Homo sapiens: one gene and its partner. The protein of the gene in region 1 purifies or fractionates together with the protein of each later gene. This does not show direct contact. Each region holds a gene or a part of one and is shown in the gene's direction. Other genes may lie near its edges.

The links.
Region 2: the proteins of PSG3 (region 1) and MGRN1 purify together in Homo sapiens (co-immunoprecipitation; 2 studies listed by BioGRID and IntAct, with this or other methods). This does not show direct contact.

The regions. Positions count from the first base shown.
Region 1 is NC_000019.10:42,730,457-42,737,483, reverse strand, and holds part of PSG3 (pregnancy-specific beta-1-glycoprotein 3 precursor), read left to right. Parts: intron 1-4,421; coding exon 4,422-4,700; intron 4,701-7,027.
Region 2 is NC_000016.10:4,648,807-4,655,833, forward strand, and holds part of MGRN1 (E3 ubiquitin-protein ligase MGRN1), read left to right. Parts: intron 1-1,558; coding exon 1,559-1,677; intron 1,678-3,156; coding exon 3,157-3,245; intron 3,246-3,871; coding exon 3,872-4,018; intron 4,019-7,027. UniProt on the Homo sapiens protein: E3 ubiquitin-protein ligase. Mediates monoubiquitination at multiple sites of TSG101 in the presence of UBE2D1, but not of UBE2G1, nor UBE2H. Plays a role in the regulation of endosome-to-lysosome trafficking.

The DNA.
Region 1 (7,027 bases):
GTGTTTCCCAAAGTGTCCATGTCACTGTCACAAGAGGATCAAGGAGAGGACCTTGTTTTCTTTCCCCACTCACACCCTACACCACCATAGGCCCAGCGAGACAGACACACTCAGGAGCTCTTACATAACAAATGAAGAAATGGAATGAAGAAATGAATGATCCAAAACCTCTTTAGAGACTGAATTTGCATGCAGAATCCTAGGAGGTTCTAGCCACACCTGTCCCTTGTCCTTCAGAGGCTGACACCCACGTTTCATCCCCCCACTACCTCTTGACCCTAAAGCAACCCCACCTCATGTAACTCTGAAGCTCTTTGGCCACCGGAGGGTTCTCAGGGCTCCTTGGTCCTGGACTGTGGAACTGGGGGCACCTGGTCCCTGGGGTCTCTGAAGTCAGTGTAGCCCTCACTGCTCACTGCCATGGTGTCTCTGCCTCTCTCTGCTTCTCTGTGTCCCTCATCTTCCTCCCACTTCATTCTGACTGGCAAGCCCTGTCCTGCACAGCTTCTTCCCCCACCCCTAGGTCTTCCCCAGACACTCCCTCTAACTAGGCTGACTGTTCAGTTCCCTTCCCGCTAACACTGTGGCCTGGCCCACCTCCCAGGAAATAGGAAAGGTGCAGAAATCACCTGGAGTTGCCACTCCTGCCAGGCTTCCTCTAGAGCCAATGTCCCCAGGTCACTAAGAGAATGAGTTTCCACTGTATTCCCATCCAGGGCTCTTTCCCTTTGTGAGGCTGACCTGTGGACAAGACCATGGGACAGGGATAGGCAGTTTCTCCATCCACTCTTATAATTGCCAGACAAGTTCTTCTGGCCTCCTGCACACACACACACACACACACACACACACACACACACACACACACACAAATGTATTGAAATGGTGGTTTGTAGTAAAGAAAGATTTTAATGACTCCAAGTCTGCCAAACAGGAGGATGGAGGTTTATTATTACTCAAATCAGCCTCCCCAGTGGATCAGGGCTTAGAGATTTTCAAGGATAGTTTCAGGGGCACAGGACTAAAAAATGAGTACTGCTGATTGGTGATGGAATCATGCGGGCGGAGGGAAATGATCTGTTTGTGCTTGAATCCACCTCTAGGTAGGGACCACATGACGGGCTGAGCCATTAGTCATAGGTATGGATGAGGTCAGCCGGTTGCCAGAATGCAAAAGAATGAGAAACATCTCAAAAGACCAATCTCACGTTCTACAATAGTGATGTTATCTATAGGAGCAATTAGTTACAAATTTTGTAAACTCTGGCCCAACGACATTTGAGCAGTCAAGGATTATAAAAACTCTGCCAACATTTTAGCAGAATTCAGTTCCCTCCTATAATCTTAATCTCATGGTCTTTCACTAGTTTTACAAAGGCAGTCCCTGGGCAAAGTAAGGGTGTTACTTTTACAGAGGAACAATTATCATTCTTGCTTCAAAGTTAAACAATAAACTAAATTCCTCCCAAGGTTAGCCTGGCCTATGCCCAGGAATGAGTGAGGACAGCCAGCCTGAGACTAGATACCAGATGGACTCAGCCATGCTAGTTTGCTGTCACTGTTGTAATCTTAGCACTGACTCACCAGAGTGTCAGAGGCTGGACAGGCCTGCAGTCCCCAAACCCCATGGGCTCATTTCACCCATTTCACTTGTGACTCCATCCTCAACCTGCTATAAAGCTCACATTCTCCGGTCACTTCCTAGAGACTTCTGGCTTCCTGTCAGGCATATAACAAGCTTGAAATTTGTTCCTCGGTTCTAACACTAAGTAAAAAGCTGAACAAACTCAAAAGTCAACAACTCATTAAAATCCCTCAGAGATGGCTGGGCACAGTGGCTCATGCCTATAATCCCAGGACTTTGGGAGGCCGAGGCAGGCACAAGGTCAGGAGATGGAGACCATCCTGGCTAACATGGTGAAACCCCGTCTCTACTAAAAATACAAAAAATTAGCTGGACGTGGTGGCAGGCGCTTGTAGTCCCAGCTATTTGGGAGGCCAAGCCAGGAGAATGGCATGAACCCAGGAGGTGGAGCTTGCAGTGAGATGAGATCATGCCACTGCACTCCAGCCTAGGTGACAGAGCGAGACTCTGTCTCAGAAAAAAAAAAATGTTTTTAGAGACATGAAGAATGCTTTTGATACTTACTGGTAGACTGAACATAGCTGAGGAAAGAATCCCTAGCTTGAGGATATGTCAATAGAAACTTCCAAAACTGAAACAGGAAAGTTCAACAAGAGTGGGGAAAAAAAGTGGAACAACATTTCAACTTCATATTTAATATTTTGATTTGACAATAGCAATTTTTAAATTTTGTAGCTGTGGGACAACTACAAAGGCTATAAGATACACGTAATGGGAATACTGGTGGTTTTGGGGACCAGGTGGAGGTGGCCAGGTGGGTGCTATCTGATGGCTTTACTGCCTGTGCCACATACAACTGTTTCCTCATGATGATGCCGTTTTCATAAGTTGGAGTTCTGCGTGTGGGGAGACACACAAACCATTGGCATCTCACTTAGACTCTTTCTAATTCACACAAACTTAAACACTAGTGGTGTTTCCTGAGCTTAAGAGAAAATGAAGAAAGCATTTCACATACCTGTTTTGGGGTCCTCCCCATTTTTCCTAACTCTGCACAGAAATTAGAAGCAGGTTCTTTCTATATTTACTAACATAACACACATCACTTCTTTTAGTTTGGCATCCTTCCTCCCTTTATGCAATTGACACACTAACCAGTTCTGTCCTTTTAACGGGACTCTCTCTACTTAAGGAGTTGCTAATTTCAAATCACCTTTGGCATCTTTCTTTGAGCATAATGTGATCCTGCTGGAATTCACGGCACACCTAAACCTTATTTTGGTCTCAAGAGAAATACTACTACCAGCAATTGATCTTAGATGTTTGGATCATCAGTAAAAATTTCCACTTATGAAAACATTTCAATGTTTCCTCCAAATTTTTTGCTGTTGTTGTTACTAGAGTCAGAACATAAGGTCTAAACTCCTGACAAATTTTTATGGGAAAATTACAGTATTACAAATTGAGCATCGGAAATCCAGAAATCCACAATCTGAAATGCTCCAAAACTCAACCCTTCTGACCACTGATGTGATGCTAAAAAGAAGTGCTCACTGGCGCATTGTGGATTTTAAATTTTTCAGATTTGGGATGCTAAACCAGTACATGTACTGTAAATATTCCAAAATAAAAAAAATTAGAAATCCAAAACACTTGGTTTTAAGCTTTCTGAATAAGGAGCACTTTATCTGTATGAACTATAGGCATGAAGCTGTACAGGAGATCTCTAGAACCTCCTCATCCTGCATAACTGAAACCGCACACCCACAGAACAACGCCCTATTCCCCTGATCCCAGCTCCTGGAAACTACTATTCTACACTCTGATTCACTCTGGAATCCACTGATATCAGGTACATAGAGTAGTCAAATTCAGAATCAGAGAGTAGAATGTCTAATGAGAGAAAGTATCTGCAAGGCTTCTTCCCAAATATTGGTCTAATATCCACCAAACACATATGGTCCATGAGGGCCAGACTTCCATCATCTGTTCATGTTCGCCCTTTCCACCAGTCGGTTCTGCATTTGCAAACATCCACATGTATTTCCAAAAAGATCCACATGGTCCTCACCTGCCCTCTACAGGGGGAAGGGAGCATCATGGACCCAGAACAGGGAACGTGGTCTTGGTCCAAAGCTATCAGCTCTTGCCTGTCCCCTTCACTCTTTGTAGGTCATTCCTTGGACTCTGCTCTATCTTTAGAGGTCACTGGCTCAAGTCAGCCACTATGAGACACCTGGGAAAACTGCCCCACCTTGTGGCTCCACTGCCTGATGACTGAACTGAACTCCGGACTTGACTCTGTTCTCCCCTGTGTTATTTCTGCTGAAGTACCCAGTCCCAGGTCAGGCTTTCCAGTATCCAAAGGGTTTAAAGACAATTGGAAGTTCCATCACCCATCTCTAGGATGTCCTTGGCAAGGGAAGCTGCAGAGAAAACATACCTCGGGCGGCAAAGTAAGACTGAAACTAAGAAGATTCCAGCACTGCATGCTCCAAGTGAGGACCACAAGGTGGGCCAGGCAGGCACTTCGAGATGGAGGGACTCAGAGAGGCACCAGGGGCTGTGACTGCTGGTCCTGTGTCTTTCCGTGACCCAATGCTGCTGCTCAATTCACAGTTAAGAAAGTCTGTGCTTCTCCCACACGAAGCAGGCAGCCTCACAATCTCTGAGCCCTCAGATTGCCATGCATCTGTCTTGTAACACACACACCTGCCATGGGCTTTTAAGGACTTGGGTGGGCTGAGAGGTGGGAAATGCCAACTCTGATTGAAAAATGCCTTTGGAGGAATCAAAGGTGCCACACAGGGCAATCTTCTCTCTGTTTTCTGCACAGTGGAGACTCCCAAGCCCTCCATCTCCAGCAGCAACTTATACCCCAGGGAGGACATGGAGGCTGTGAGCTTAACCTGTGATCCTGAGACTCCGGACGCAAGCTACCTGTGGTGGATGAATGGTCAGAGCCTCCCTATGACTCACAGCTTGCAGTTGTCCAAAAACAAAAGGACCCTCTTTCTATTTGGTGTCACAAAGTACACTGCAGGACCCTATGAATGTGAAATACGGAACCCAGTGAGTGCCAGCCGCAGTGACCCAGTCACCCTGAATCTCCTCCGTGAGTATCTCCTGTTCCTCTGTGAGCCAGTCTGCCATCCCAAATACACGTGGCCAGAGGCCAGGCCTCTCAGTCCCTCTCAGGTCCAAGTACAGAGACCTTTACCCCTGGACATCAAACCTGGCCATGACTTTCTGCCCCAGGCAAACCAGAGTAGGCCTAGGCTTGATCAACAATAGGAGAAAAGAGGCTGCTCCTGTCATGGGAGACTCAGCGTCCACAGCTTGTGATGGGCAAAACAGGTGACTGTCTCAGGCTCCAGATCAGTGAACACAGCAGGGATTTGGCTGGGACTTCAGTGTTGCAACTTGGCTCACAGGGTCACTGTGGCCCTTCCACAGACCAGGATTTTCCCTTCCCTCTGACAATACCACCTATGACATTATTCTCTTTGCTCCACATGGCCTGGATGCCCCCACCATTTCCTCCTCATACACCTATTACCATACAGGGGAAGCCCCCAAGCTCTCCTGCCTCACAGACTCTCACCCACTGGCAGAGCATTCTTGGCTGATTGATGGGAAGTTCCAGCAATCAGCACAAGTGTTCTTTATCCCCCAAATCACTAAAACATATAGAGGGGTCTATGTCTGTTTCATCCATAACTCAGCCACTGCTGGAACAAATCTCATAATCAAGAGGATCATAGTCCCTGGTAAGTGGATCCCTGGAGCATTGGCACTATGTTTTCCAGTGAAGTCTATCTAGCTATCAGGGAAGAGCCACCTGCCCTCTGCAAAGGGAGAGGGAAAATCAAAAACCCAGGACAGGGAATATGTTTCTGCTCCAAAACCACCAGCTTTTGCCTGTCCCCTTCACTCTTTCTAGATCATTCTTTAGACTATACACTAACAATGAACAATCTGAAAGGAAATTAAGGAAAGAATTTCAGTTCACATTAACATCAAAAGGAATAAAATATTTTGAAATAAGTTTAACCAAAAAGTCAAATGATTATACCCTGAAAACTACAAAAGATTGCTGAAACAAGTTAAAGACGATATCAATATATGGAAACACATTTCATTTTCATGGATTGGAGGAATCAATATTGTTAGAAAGATAATATTCCCAAAGTGAGTTGCGGATTCAATGTAACACCTAACAGAATCCCAGTAACATTTTTTGCAGAATTAGAAAACACTGTCCTAAATCTCACCTGACAGGCTCTTATTAATGACTGCCACAACAGATACACTGAGAAAAAGAGGCAACCATGAAAAGGTGGAAAGTTCTGATGACATAGAAAATAGCAATCAGCCTTTCTCACATCCCAAGGCCTTCAAAAATATACAAGTGCAGCATGGCCAGTATGGAATTCACCGAAAACTAATCACCAAGCTAGAAAAGTGGTGAGAGAAAAAAAAAGGGCAAGAATATCTTTGGCTTATCACCTCCCACTTTTGCCTACTAATCTGATGCTGAAAAGAAATGCTCACTGAAGCATTTTAGATTTTGAGTCTTTCAGATTTGGGATGCTAAACCAGTAAGTATATGACAAATATTTCAGAATCAAAAAATGTCAGAAATCCAAAACACTTTTTGTCCTAAGTCTTATGCATAAGAAATACTCAATCTGTGTGAACTATAGGCATCAAGCTCTACAGCAGATCTCTAGAACCTCCCCACCTTGAATAACTGAAACTGCCCACCCATGAACAACTTCTGATTCTCCCCACTCCCAGCTCCTGGCAACCAGCAGTCTCTTCTCATATTCACTCTGGAATCCACTTACATGAGGTCCCTAGAGTAGTCGAACCCATGGAATCATTGAGTAGAATGTCCAATGAAAGAAAATATTTGCAAAACTTCTCTCCAAATTTGTCTCATATCCATCAAACACATATGGTCCATGAGGACCAGATTTCCAGCAGTTCATTCCCACCCTTTCCACCAGTCAGTGCTGCATTTGCAAATGTCCACATGTATTTCTGGAAAGATCCACATGGTCCTCACCTGCCCTCTGCAGAAGGAGAGGAAACTTAAAGAACCCAAGACAGGGAACATGCTTCTGCTCCAAAGCCACCAGCTCTTGCCTGTCACCTTCACTCTTTCTAGATCATTCCTTGCACTCTGCTCTATCTTTAGAGGTCACTGGTTCAAGTAAGTCATCATGAAACACCTGCAAAAAACTGCCCCACCTTGAGCCTCCACTGCCTGATGACTGAACTGACCTCCAGGCTTGATTCTGGTCTCCCCTGTGTTATTTCTGCTGAAACATCCAGTCCCAGGCCAGGCTGCTCAGTATCTTCAGGGTTTCAGGGCCATGGGAAGTCCCATTATTACTCATCTCTAGAATGTCCTTGGAAATGGAAGTTGCAGAGAAA
Region 2 (7,027 bases), on another chromosome or scaffold:
GGCTCTTCCCGTGGTCACCCGGGTCCTCCTCCCGGGGCTCTTCCCGTGGTCACCCGGCTCCTCCTCTCGGGGACTCTTCCCGTGGTCACCCGGCTCCTCCTCTCGGGGACTCTTCCCGTGGTCACCCGGGTCCTCCTCTCCGGGGCTGTGTGCCAGGAGAAATGGGGCTGGATCTGGGCGTCAGGTCAGGAATCCAGGGGAGAGGCCATGCTCTCAGTGTTCCTTGGCAGGGCTGTGAGCGCAGGTCTCTGAGGATGCCCAGCTGTCCATCCCCTCCTCATAGGAGAAGCGCAGATCTCATGCCTAAGTGTGCCAGGGTCCTGATGGGCGCCACCTACAGCCTCCCGCCCTCACGCGGGAGTCAGACTGAACGAACTAGCCCAGATCCACAGAGACTTCTAAACCCGGCTGGGTGCTGCCATGGAAAGTACACAGGGCTCAGATTTGGGGGTAAGGTGACTTAGCCTGGGGTCACGAAATGTGTAAGGATTTCTTGGGGTGGCTGTGACAAATGACCTCTAACCGTGGCTTGAAACAGCAGAAATGTATTCTCTCACCATCACAGAGGCACACGTCAGAAACCGAGGTGCCAGCAGGGCCACGGTCCCCGAAGGCGCTGGGGGAGGACTCTTCCTTACCTCTCCCCACTCCTGGGGCCCCAGGCACTCATTGTCATCCCTGGGCTTGTGGCCGCATCACTGCAATCTCTTGCCTCCATCTCTTCCCTTGGCCTTCCCTTCAAGTCTGCGTCCAAACCTCCCTCTCCTTTCTTCTGTTAAGAACCAGTCACTGGATTTAGAGCCCCTCAATCCAGTATGACCTCCTCTTAACTTGATTACATCTGCAAAGACCCTAGATCCAAATAAGGTCACATGCACAGGTAGGGGCTGGGTGTGGAGTAGGACCCGAACTTCATCGGAAACACAGCTCAGGCCACTACAGAAGAAAGTGGTGTTGGAGCTGGATGCTGGCTGATGGGCTGGGAGCAGCGAGGAGCCGTCCAGGGAAGGGTGTTGAGGCTGGCAGTGTGGAGAGGCCAGGAGGCCACCTTGGAAGGCCCGAGGCCAGGTGGCCGAGGCAGAGGGTATGAGGGGCACCCGCTGGCCTGTCTGCATCAGCTCCCCTCAGGTGGAGCCTTTCTCAGGGCCGAGCTTCTTGGCCGTCAGATGTTCCCACCAGGCTGTGTTCAGCCTCAGAGTCGATAACTGTTTCCAGGCTGGGCGCCGTGGCTCATACCTGTAATCCCAGAACCTTGGGAGGCTGAGGCGGGCGGATTACCTGAGGCCGGGCATTGGAGACCATCCTGGCCAATATGGTGAAACCCCGTCTCCACTAAGAATACAAAAATCAGCTGGGCGTGGTGGTGGGTGCCGGTAATCCCAGCTACTCGGGAGGCTGAGGCAGAAGAATCGCTTGAACCCGGTGGGCGGAGCTTGCAGTGAGCTGAGATAGCGCCACTGCACTCCAGCCTGGGTGGAGCGCCACTGCACTCTAGCCTGAGACTCTGTCTCAAAAAAAAAAAAAAAAAATCTATAATCGTGTTTCCTTTTTTAAACAGGAAACTACTTTGCTTCGCACTTTTTCATGGGAGGAGAGAAATTCGACACCCCCCACCCTGAAGGTTACCTCTTTGGAGAGAACATGGATCTGAACTTCCTGGGCAGCCGCCCGGTCCAGGTGGGTCTGGACAGGGCTGTCTCATGGGGCTGTGGGGGTGGGAGGCCCCTGTCCCCAGCAGTCCGCATCCCAGCCATGAGGGCAAGCAGGCACCAAATCACCCCTAAAGGGGGCAGAGCTCCTGGCAGGATTCCAGTTGAGCTTGGGTGTGGGCACGTGCCCTGGAATGGGTTGTGTCCTGGTGCTGCCCCCTAGAGGCCAGATGGCCAGGGGCAGGTCACTGAGAAACAGAGCAGCCATACTGAATGGGTGCGTCTGGGCTGCAACGGCTGCGGAACATGGTGGATTTGATTCCAGCCTTCTTGGATGACTTTCTTTACAAGGCAAAAATAGTATTTACAGACTGGGCATTGTGGCTCACGCCTGTAATCCCAGCACTTGGGGAGGCTGAGGCGGGCAGATCACCTGAGGTCAGGAGTTTGAGACAAGCCTGGCCAAAATGGTGAAACCCCGTCTCTACTGAAAAAAAAGAAAAATTAGCCGGGTGTGGTGGCACGTGCCTGTAATCCCAACTACTCGGGAGGCTGAGGCAGGAGAATCACTTGAATCTGAGAGGCGGAGGTGGCAGTGAGCCGAGATTGCACCACTACACTCCAGACTGGGCAACAAAGGGAGACTGTCTCAAAGAAAAAAAAAAAAAAGAATATTTACTTTCCCTAGAACAGTGGGCAAGAGACATGGTCCAAAGGAGAGATGCAGACAGCTGGCTAACATCTTCCCCTCGTTGCCAGAGAAGGGCACATTCGAGTACTGTCATAGTACTCGAGTACTGTGAGCTGTCTGTTCAGCACACATGTGGCACCTGCTGCGTGCCTAGTGCTCTTCCAGGGCTTGGGGTGAAAGCAGACCCTGCCTCTGCTACCTGGTGGGGGCGTAGACAATTAATACGGGACAAATGGGTAGAAGAGAGAAGGGGCAGAAAGGGAGGCTCTACTGGAGAGGCCATGGCTGAACCAAGCCATGATAGGTGGGAAGGGGGCCCCTCCAGAAGAAGCTAGAAGGCAGGGGGCCTGGGAACAGAGGAAGAGGTGAGAGGGTGCAGGCCTCAGGGGACAGGAGGCCGGAAGAGCCAGTAAACTTTGGGGGCCCTGGGGCGGGTTGCTGAGCTGTGCTCGTAGGAAGCTTTGGGGATGGAAAGGGTGGGGACTGAGGAAGGGGCTGAGGGTGCTCGGGGCAGTGATGGATATGGGAAGCCTGGGAGAGCAGGTTGGGGATGGGCAGCCCCAGCGTGCAGGGGTCTGGCGTTGAGGCTGCCTGGCTGGATTTGCTCAGGGTGATTTGGTCCTGGCCGTTGCGTGTGCTGGCTGCGTGGCCTGCAGCTTCTACCTGTAAATGAGAACAGTGCACCCAGTATAGCCCCTCCCATGGGACTAGATCCCAGGGATACCCTCTGGGGCTGTGGCTGCTGCACCCTGACCCGTTTTCTGTTGTTGGCTGCTCCTGAGGGAGTCACCTGGGGCCCTGTGGTTTTTCTCCTAGTTTCCCTACGTCACTCCTGCCCCCCACGAGCCCGTGAAGACGCTGCGGAGCCTGGTGAACATCCGCAAAGACTCCCTGCGGCTGGTGAGGTAACTTCACCCTGCCCCTGGGGACCCTGTGGCTCTGTGGGGCGCAGCCTGTGGTGGAGGTTCTGGCTTGATGCTTGAGGAAAAGGGCAGGCGGGAGGGGCCCCAGTTTCTGCGCCCTCCCGTGTGGAATGAGAGGCTGTCCTGGGCTGAGCGAGGGAAAGGGCATGTGGAACAAGAGCCGTTTAGCCAGGGCTTCTCAGCTGTGCCGCACAGGGACCCTGGGCAGTGTCTGGAGGCAGCCAGGTGGGGTGCTTGGCATCTCAGGTGGGTGCCAGGGGTGCTGCAGACTTCCTGCCATGCACAGGACGGCCCCCCCACAGACAGGAATGACCCAGCACCAGATTTCAGCAGGTTCAGAAACTGCTTAAACCGACTAGACTTGAGGCATCTGGGGCTGTCTCTGAACCAAAAGCACGTACCCCGTCTTCTGTGGGCAGGAAGAAGGAGAGGCAAGCCCTGGACCACTGGGCTTTCATGTACAAATAGGAAACAGCCCCTATGTCTACTGGAGAAGCGGGCTGTGTCCACATAGCCACCTCCACGGCCCCTCAGCCTGGCAGGGGAGGAGGCAGCCTCCGCAGATGGGGCCGCTGACCCGCTGCCTTTCTCTCCACCGCCTGGGGTAGGTACAAAGACGATGCCGACAGCCCCACCGAGGACGGCGACAAGCCCCGGGTGCTCTACAGCCTGGAGTTCACCTTCGACGCCGATGCCCGCGTGGCCATCACCATCTACTGCCAGGCATCGGAGGAGTTCCTGAACGGCAGGGCAGTGTGAGTCCCGCGGGCGGCTGGCACCGGCCTGGCTGGGGGCCCCAGACTCCTGGGGGAGGCTTCTGTCCACCTTACTAACCAGAGGGAGAAAACCAAACCGTGCTCTTTGACCATACTCCCAGGACTTTACCACGATGTGAGGGGTTTCTCCCACCCCAGGGACTCCCCACTTTTCTGCGGGAACCAGCTGGGGTCCTTTGACTGGTTTCAGTTCCAACGCTGCCTGGAGGTCATGCAACCCCTGCACTTTGAGGGCCCAGTCCCACAAGACTGCCCCACTTCAGATGCCACTCATAAGCCCCCGCTGTCACCTGAACTTCTCAGCAACCAGCCATAAATCAGGCTCCCACAGTCCCCTCCTCAGGCTTGATGAGTTGCTAGTGTGGCTCACAGAACCCAGGGAAACACTTGGCTGGTGTTTGTTGGTTTATTGTAAAGGATTCAGATGAAGAGGTTCACAGGGTGAGGTGTGGGGGAAGGGGTGGGGCGCACCACCTTCCTCGTATTCAGCAAACCAGAAGCTCTCCTGAAAACCCCATTTCAGGGCCTTTTCTGGAGGCTTCATCACGTAGGCAGGATTGATGATTAACTCCATCTCCAGCCCCTGTCCCCTCCCTGGAGGATGGGGCTGGGCTGAAATTCAGTTCCAGGTTTTTGTTTTGTTTTTGTTTTGTTTTGTTTTGAGACGAAGCCTCACTCTGCTGCCCAGGCTGGCGTGCAGTGGCACAATCTTGGCTCACTGCAACCTCCGCCTCCCGAGTTGAAGCAATTCTCCTGCCTCAGCCTCCTGAGTAGCTGGGACTACAGGCACGTGCCACCACGCTTGGCTAATTTTTGTATTTTTAGTAGAGATGGGGGTTTCGCCATGTTGGCCAGGATGGTCTCAATCTCTTGACCTCATGATCTGTCCATCTCAGCCTCCCAAAGTGGTTTTTGTTTGTTTTTGAGACAGAGTTTCGCTCTTGTTGCCCAGGCTGGAGTGCAATGGTGTGATCTTGGCTCACTGCAACCTCCGCCTCCTAGGTTCAAGTGCTTCTCCTGCCTCAGCCTCCCGAGTAGCTGGGATTACAGGCATATGCTACCATGCCTGGCTAATTTTGTATTTTTAGTAGAGACGGGGTTTCATCATGTTGGTCAGGCTGGTCTCAATCGCTCGACCTCAGGTGATCCACCTGCCTCGGCCTCCCAAAGTGCTGAGATTACAGCCGTGAGCCCCCATGCCCGGCCCACCTGGCCCAGGTTTTTGTTTGTTTTTCCTCGGGAGCTCTTAGACGACACTTCCAAGTCTCTAATCATGGCTTGGTCTTTCTGGCAGCCAGCCACCTCCAGGAGCCAAGAGTCACCTCACTGGCACATAAGACACTCCTACCACCCGGGAAATTCCAAGGGTTTGGAGTTCTGTGTTGGGAGCAAAGGTCAAGGAACAAATATTAGAACAAAAGAGGCTCCTAGCACCCCTGTTGCTGAGGAAATGACAAGGGTTTTAGAGGACTCTGTGTCAGGAACTGGGGCTGGGACCAAATATTTATTTTTTATTGTGTCATAATTAGATATTTGTACTTTCAGAGGTTTTATTTGAGATAAGGGTCCTTCTGGCCCTGAAAGTTTGAAAACTGCAACTTCAGCAGGAGCTGGCAGGACTGCCTCCAGGCTACAAGGGCACATGTGCCCCAAGTGGCTTTAGAGACAGGCAAGAGCGTGCCCCCTGCCTTCCTGCACTGGAGCACACCGCTCAGTGGTCAGCTTTGCATCTGGGGATAGGGTGTGGTTGAGAGCCTAGGCTTTGAATGCTGTCCCCGCTGAGTGGCTTGGGGGCACATGACTGCTTGTGCCTCTGTGTCCTCAGCTGGAAGTTCGGGTGGGTGGTGTGAGGAGGGGACCATGTGTCCTGTGCACAGCCCCTCGCGTGACAGGTGCTCTTGAAAGGAGCCTGAGTGCTCGAGTTGAGGGGCTGGTGGAGACGACTTATGTGGGGAGGTTCTTAGGGACCTGCCACCAGGTGAGGCCGCCCTTGGGCTCTGGCCTTGGGCTCCCCGGCAGCCAGGGCTCCTCCTGTGGAGCAGCACTTTGGGGAGGAACAGGTTCCTTTTTCTAGACTTTGTTCTTTGAGGCTCTACCTTGCCCCGGCACTTGATTATATTTCTTTAATGACACTAGTAATGCATGCCTGTGTGCTATGACAGGCGTCGAATTCTTGGGCGTAGGAGCATTTGGAGTGACCAGGGCAGGCCCCTCTGTCCCCTCCTTGCACCCCACTGCTTGGGGTTGAGTGTTTGACACCCACGGGGCCTGGTGCCCTCCTCGGGCCTGGCCGACATGGTGGAGGAGCTGGGTTGTGGCGAGGTGTCCAGGGGCTGCCACAGAGAGGGTGTGGGCTGAGGACACAGGCCAGTGTAAGTTGTCTATCCGCTGCCCCCCAGTGCTCCAGCTGTCAGGGGCTGGGTGACCATCTCAAGTGCACTTGAAGAGAGGGTCCCGCTGCTACCAGAAAGGCTAGAGAGAGCAGAGAGGGTGCCCTGCCAGCCCTGGCTGGTGTCACCCTCTCCTAGACCCCTGCGGGCTAGTGATGAGAGAAATGCCACAGTCCCCCCCTCTCAGGACCTGGCACAAGGCCAGCTTCCCCTCCCAGCAGGAATCACAGAGCAGGAACAGCTCCAGTGCCACTGTCCCCCTCTGTCAGGACCTGGTACGAGGCCTGCTTCCCCTCCCAGCGGGGATCACAGAGCAGGAACAGCTCCAGTGCCACTGTCCCCCTCTCTCAGGACCTGGTACGAGGCCTGCTTCCCCTCCCAGCAGGCATCACAGAGCAGGAACAGCTCCAGTGCCACTGTCCCCCTCTCTCAGGACGCGGTGCAAGGCCAGCTTCCCCTCCCAGCAGGGATCACAGAAAAGGACCTGGAGGCTCCAGGACCTGGAGGCTGTGCCCAGGCACCCGGACACCATCCAGCCTGCCAGTGCTCCATCCATTTGAGCTGCAGGGCAAGCCACCCTCCCTGCCTCCTGACAAGG